Homo sapiens: one gene and its partner. The protein of the gene in region 2 interacts with the protein of the main gene of each other region in a biochemical or structural test. Each region holds a gene or a part of one and is shown on either strand. Other genes may lie near its edges.

Region 1 (3,654 bases), on a different chromosome or scaffold from region 2:
TGCAGCCAATTATCCCGCAAACATTTCTTAACCACCTATTTGGCTAGAGGCTGTGGAAATGACAGGGGGTCCTCAGCCAGTGGGCCAGTGGCAAACACCGACATATTTAGGCACAATGCATGGTGGCCAGTGCTATGGCACAGTATTCCAGGCACCCTTAGGAGTCTAACTCTTAAATAGCAACATGGCCCCAAGCCTCAATTTACCCTTATGGTAGAGGGGTAGGGAAAGAGATGTGGGCACAGTATAGGTTTGTCACCATCCTAAAGTCCTTTTTAAAGAGGTTTTTCGCCAGGCATGATGGCTCATGCCTGTAATCCTAGCACTGGGAGGCTGAGGTGGGCAGATCACTCAAGGTTAGGCGTTCAAGACCAGCCTGGCCAACATGGTGAGACCCTATTTCTACAGAAATTAGCTGGGTGTGGTGGCGCATGCCTGTAGTCCCAGCTACTCAGGAGGCTGAGGCAGGAGGATGTCTTGAATCTGGGAGGCAGAGGTTGCAGCAAGCCACCTGCACTCCACCCTTGGCAACACAGCGAGATTCCATCTCAGAACAAAAAGAAGTAAAATAAAAAAATATATAAAGGGGATTTGGTGAGTTTTTCCAATTCCCAGGAGGGAATCAGCACTGAAAGGGCTGAGTTCTATTCTGGTATTTACAGCTGACACGTATGCGCACATGCACACACATACATGCACGCACACACACACACACGCACACACACGTGTGCACACCCACCTCCTGGAAAGCTATTTATTGAGAGTCACTGGGAACTTGGGCGAATGAACCCACCTCCCTGGCCTGCAATCCCCCATTTGAAACAAGCAGGTTGTAGTAGATGATTTCCAGAAGGCTCCCCAGCTCTAGAATTCTGTGTCCTATGATTTTCTGGCTCATTTAGAAGTGGTGTGGAAAGTACCCTTTGCCAACCGAATTCCACATTGCACAGCCTGCAGGCTGCCGACTCGAAGCAGTCATATGGCAAATGTTACTGCAAATATGAAGAGGCTCCTTTAAGGGATCCTCTGTGTCAATTTTCTTGAAGGCTTTTCTTATAGAGAATGCCCCCGTCATTTGGCCTGTGCAGGGTAGGAGTCACCATCCCAGATCTGCTACATCACTTGATTTCTTAACAGCCCCATAGAGCAGACAGGATACATGATAAAGAGAGGCCCATCCAACTTAGCCCATGTTCCTGGGTCCGGGACAGGAAACCCCACCAGCTGAGCTCCCTGCCCTGCTTCATGGCCAGTGGGTGCAAATAGGAAATGAGCCCAGAGCTGGGTAAAGAGCTCCTGGCTGAGGTCCAGTGAAAGTGTCCAGGCAGGCTCAGGCTGGTGGGTAGGGATGGGCAGGGCAATGCCATTCTCTTTCTCTGATTATGTAGGAATGACTTCCATTTCAGCTAGAGCAAAGCTTGCATTCAGCAGCCCTGAAGAGGGCCTCTGCCTCAAAGGGTGTGAAGAAGCAGCACTTCCTGGAATAGGGGTCATCTACGTCCCCTCCTGAGAAGTCCAGTGAACTGGAGACACGATTCCTCCCACTTCCCTTAAGAGTGAAGGGCTCTGAGCTGGGTGCGGTGGCTCATGCCTGTGATCCCAGCACTTTGGGAGGCTGAGGCGGGCGGATCATGAGGTCAGGAGATCGAGACCTTCCTGGCTAACATGGTGAATCCCCGTCCCTACTAAAAAATACAGAAAATTAGCCGGGCGTGGAGGTGGGCGCCTGTAGTCCTAGCTATTCGGGAGGCTGAGGCAGGAGAATGGCGTGAACCCGGGAGGTGGAGCTTGTAGTGAGCTGAGATCACGCCACTGCAGTCCAGCCTGGGTGACAGAACGAGACTCCATCTCAAAAAAAAAAAAAACAGTGAAGGGCTCTGAGCTAAGTGCTGAGCCAGCTCCACAGCAGCCACCAGCATCACAGGGGTCACCAGCCCCACAGAAGCCTTAACCTTCAGCAGTTGCTCCCACCAGCTCTAGCTGCTGGAGAACAAGCCCACTGGCCAGACATCCCTTCCCAGGATGCAAACTCCCCTTCCAGGGAGCCTAAAGCCAGGGCTGAAGCCGGTTCCCCTCAGTTCTACAGTCCAGAGTATCCCAAGCGACCGCTCAGCGCTGGGTGCTGGGCTGGGCCCTGGAGGTGGTGATAAGTATGTTGTTGGCCCCTCGAGGGCCTCACCGCATGGTGGAGGAGACACACAGATCATGGAACACACTTTGGTTCTCCCTAGGAAACCAGGGAAGGCATCTCAGAGATGATGCCTGAGGGTGGCTAGGAGTGGCTCTTCCCCTCCCTCCCTGCAAGGGGGGGAATTCTAACCACAGGGAGTCTAGTCCCCTTCCCCTCTCAGCTTTCCACAGGGCAGTGGTGTTAAAACCCCAGGCAGCACCCTCCTCTCCTTTCAAACATGGGTTCCTGAGGAAAACCAGATGGGGGACAGCCTCCATGCCTCTTCCCCCACCTTCTCTAGGCCTGGGGGACACCCTGAGGACCCTCCTGGGCAGGCCACGCTCCCCTCCTCAGCCCTTCTCTGGACGACCACACTCCAAAGCTCTGGCCACACTGACACCAGGTGCTTTTGGGTCTGCCCTTGAATGGCTGGGCTCCTAACCCCGCCATGTCCAGCTCGCTCCTGCCTCAGATCCTGTCCCAAGCTGCACCATGCTGGGAACACCCACATTCCCCCACCCCAGCCCTGGGCACCTTGTTTTTTTCCTTGAGTCAGGGTCTCCCTCTGTTGCCCAGGCTGGAGAGCAGTGGCGTGATCTTGGCTCACTGCAACCTCTGTCTCCCACGTTCAAGCAATTCTCCTACCTCAGTCTCCTGAGTAGCTGGGACTACAGGCGTGTGCCACTACCATGCCCAGCTAATTTTTTTGTCTTTTTAGTACAGTCTTACTAGGTTGCCCAGGCTGGTCTTGAACTCCTAGGCTCAAGTGATCCTCCCACCTTGGCCTCTCAAATTTGCTGGGATTCCAGGCGTGAGCAGCCACACCCTGCCACCGTGGAATTTTCTCTCCAGTTCTGAGAGCTAATCTCCCCAAAGCCTCAATGACTCCATCTCAAGAACCACCATCACAGACTCCCCGACCCTAATCTGCATCTCCCCTACACACTACAATTCATAGAGCCTCAGCCACATTAGGAAACACTGACCCTTTTAATTTTAAAATCCCTATGTGAAAACCCCACCTCCTTCAGGAAGCTTTCTCCAGACCTCCAGACCACCCCTTCCAAATCTTATACTCTTTTCCATATGCCTCCCTCTCCCACAGAGTGGCACTGGGGCTTCAGTTTTTATTATCATATATCCACTGATACCCACAAACATTGGCAGGATCCCAATGCCTGGGGTCCCTTAAACCCACCAGGTGCTCAATATATATGCTTACTAATCATCATAGCTATTTTTTGAGTGTTGATCCTGAGTTGGGCGTAAAGCCAAGCCCATGATATATATACTCGCTCATCTTCATAGCAACCCACAAGGTAGGGCTGTTATTACTTTATAGATGAAGAAACTGAGGTTCAGGGAGGTCCACTATTTTGTCCATGGTCATGCACATCTCTCTGACCCAAAGTCTGAGTGTTTCCACCCCACCAAGCTGCCTTTCTGTTGCCCAGAATTCATCCATTGAACATCAGATTGAGAGT
Region 2 (3,648 bases):
GAATCCGGAAGATAGGAGGAATATGGACGTGGGTGGGAACCAACAAATCTCTTACTGAAGAAGCAGAGAACTGGGGAGATGGTGAGCCCAACAACAAGAAGAACAAGGAGGACTGCGTGGAGATCTATATCAAGAGAAACAAAGATGCAGGCAAATGGAACGATGACGCCTGCCACAAACTAAAGGCAGCCCTCTGTTACACAGGTAGGGAGTGACAAGACGGCTATGCTGCCTCAGACTCAGGAAGGGCCACGGTTAAGAGAATACTCAGATTTACCCCATGGAAAGGTGGGGGGATGAGAACAGCTTCTGGTTCATTCTAAAATACATCTAGCCCTCTATATAATCTTGCATCGTGTCACTCCTAAGAATTTTTGGTGTGTAAGATTTGTCCCTGTGCACAAAAGCTATACCCCTAAATCAAGTTACATCAAAATGATAGATCTACGTAGGAAGTACAGAGGAAGAGCTAGACAATCAGTGCCTTTGATAATAAGGCAGGGGAGGAGAAGCTGACAGCTGGGGCCAGTTGGAAACTTAGGCTCACATCACCTCAGTTTTCACATTGTGAAGTAGAGAGTGTGGTGCTGCGTGCTTCCTTCTTGGTCTAACCTTATATAATTTTATATAAAAATTGCACTATCTTTGGTGTATGAATATTTCTGTAAAATCTTCTACAATTCCAAAACAGCCAGCATTTTCCAAGTGATGTTTTAATAATGAACCATAGTTAATTTGGTCTCTTATAAATTGGACTCTACCGTTTTAGCAAATTTGGACTTTTTAATCTTTGATTTCTATAAAGAAAGGGATTGCCAAGAAATAATTGCATGCAGAAATGATTGAGGTCAGGTCATCATTTAACCTTCTCACTCATTAAAAACAAGTAATTTCAAGAGTTTCAAGGTATGCCACTAAGTTTCCTATAAGTGTTACAGAATATTAGTATTGGTAATTTCATTCCAAAAGCAAATAAATGCCTATGACTATATGCTTAGTGTATTTTATACGTAAAAATTTTAGCATATGATTTTTATGCTATGAATTTACAAATAAACCTTTCCTGATTATTTAAATCATCTCAGACAAAAGGTTATCTATGTCTAAAGAAATGACTTTGAGTACTAAAATGTAATCACATTAAAATATTTTTTTTCTGACCTCCTTAAAGCTTCTTGCCAGCCCTGGTCATGCAGTGGCCATGGAGAATGTGTAGAAATCATCAATAATTACACCTGCAACTGTGATGTGGGGTACTATGGGCCCCAGTGTCAGTTTGGTAAGTCTCTTTCCTTTCTTTGCTTCTTCTTAGGTAAAGTCACAGGAATCATTATAGCTTATCATGAAGCTGGTTGGAACAAAATGATACTAGCCACTCTGAGAAATGGGAAGTTTTGATCAGAAAGCTCTGCTTTCACAATATTGTTACCTTTCCGTAAAGATTTCATAAGTCAGCATGAAGTTTCGACTCACTTCTCAACAAGTCTTTTTGAGTACCACAAGAAGCACAGTGTTGGGATAAAAGCTGTCAGGGTTACCATAAGGAATTAGCATGGTAGATTCCCGCTCTCAAGAAGCTCACGATCTAATGAGCTTGTTAGATTAATTAGAACTCTAAGGTCTGGAAGAAACTATGCCATTTATCATTAGGAGGCTGAGTTACCCAGAAAGTATCTTGCTTTTTCCTTCTAGTAGTTCCTTTCCTTCTTGCAGTTCTCCACACTTAACACATGTGCTCTGTAGCACACTGACTTTGCTGGTGGCCTTCTCTCTCATTTTGCACATGGCCAAAAAACATGTCATCTTTAAGACATTGTTCAAAGACAGTTTCTTCTAGGAAGCTTTCTTAGTTCTGATAGCTCCACATATTTCTTCCTCATTTCTCCCACTTATGTTGAAGTCATCTGTTCACTTGTCCGTCTCCTCTGGTACTGAAAACTTCTTGAGATCAGTAAGTGTCCTATTTATCATTGCATCTTTGGGATCCACAAAATGCCTGTATATATGAGGCACTTGCTTGTGAGCCTGAATTGAATTGGACAATTTAATTTTTTAAAAAAGCAATGTTTGTAAACAATAAAGAATTAAAACCAAAATACATTTAAATGTCAACCAACTGAAATAGATCTATAGATCTAACTCATTTCACTTGATCCCTGGGCCATGACTCCTTCCTAATACTTTACCCTCACCCCATTTTTGAACTCTATTTTTTAACCCTTATGTTATTGGTATGCCTATTTTACTCATTTTTAATTATTGGTATGCCTATTTCACTCATTTTTAACATTTTACTTTTCTTTGTCTTGGTTTCTCTCATATCACTCTTTTCTCATTCTTTCTACCTGTGATCATTTCTCCTGAGATCCTTCATGAGCACTTATCCAGGACCATAAACTACTATAATTTCTCAGCTTTTGTCTTTTGTATATTGCTCTTCTGACTCTAATCTACATGTATCCTTTGGTCAAACTTACTGACTTTTGCGGACTCACAAATCTATGTGATCTTTGGACTGATAAGCCTATCTCCAGCTCTGAACTCAAATATGCTAAGGATGTCCTTTGGGATGTTTAAAAGACTATAAAACCAATTGTTCCCAGTCAGCTTTTCTCTTCGTATTTCTTATCTCAGTATGTGGAATCACCATTTACATGGGCACCCTGGTATGAGACTCTCTTAACTCCCCCAACATTTATGCAGGGTAACATTCTACCAATTTTTACAACTTAGTGTTTTTCTAATTTGTCTTCCACTTGTCAACTCTACTACCATTGCCGTCATTATCTTTCTTCTAGATTCTTGCAATAGTTTATTAGATGAGTTCCACAATTTTAAATTAGCTCCCCTCAAATACATTATTCATACTACAGGGAGACTGATCAATTAAAAGCAATTAAAACACATCACACATACATGACAATCCACCCATTAATTTCTACCTACCATTTTGTCCTACAGGGTGAAATCTAAGCTCTTCAAGCCCCAGAGTAATGCTTGATATATAATAGATACTCTTTAAATCAATGAAAAAAGATAACATTTTCTCTTAGTTCCCATGTTTCTCCCTAATCTCATCTCATATAGTTTCCAAATACAAAAATTCTTCTGATTCCTTGAGTCCATTCTTCCTTGAAGTCTCTAGAGCAAGGTAGCAATAATGGCTTAAATTTGACAGATGAGGAATAAGACATGAAAGTTGTACTGTTTACTAAATGGCATGGCAGGGTCTAAAATGTGAAAACTTTGATTTCCAAGTCTTAAATTTACCTATTGTACCACCAATCAGAACAGGGAAATAGATACAGTTTCTGGAGAGGGTTGTCAAAATCAAAAGAGTTAAAATTCTGGAACTGAGCTAGAATAGAAGACAGAATTGAGGTCAAAATGCTTCCTAGACTTTTATATTCTCTCCTTGCAAAGAAGGCTTATTATGGAGACCCACTCTTTCTCTGAACATCTTGCTCCCAATACTCTAGTAGACTCAGGGGCTCTGATGTGATAGTTATTTCCCGACTAAGCTGGTCATTCCCAGTTACACCTATTTGGCTTTAAGGATTCTCACTACAGATAATGCTGAAGATAATAATATGAAGACTAGCTAATGTTTACTTAGAATTTCTGATGAGTCAGGCTTTGTTCTAAGGT

The links. Proteins that work in one complex are often made in the same cells at the same time.
Region 1: the proteins of SELL (region 2) and PODXL form a complex in vitro, tested with the Homo sapiens proteins (one large-scale study listed by IntAct).

The regions. Positions count from the first base shown.
Region 1 is NC_000007.14:131,550,086-131,553,739, forward strand, and holds part of PODXL (podocalyxin isoform 1 precursor), read right to left. Parts: intron 1-3,654. UniProt on the Homo sapiens protein: Involved in the regulation of both adhesion and cell morphology and cancer progression. Functions as an anti-adhesive molecule that maintains an open filtration pathway between neighboring foot processes in the podocyte by charge repulsion.
Region 2 is NC_000001.11:169,704,973-169,708,620, reverse strand, and holds part of SELL (L-selectin precursor), read left to right. Parts: coding exon 1-204; intron 205-1,171; coding exon 1,172-1,279; intron 1,280-3,648. UniProt on the Homo sapiens protein: Calcium-dependent lectin that mediates cell adhesion by binding to glycoproteins on neighboring cells. Mediates the adherence of lymphocytes to endothelial cells of high endothelial venules in peripheral lymph nodes.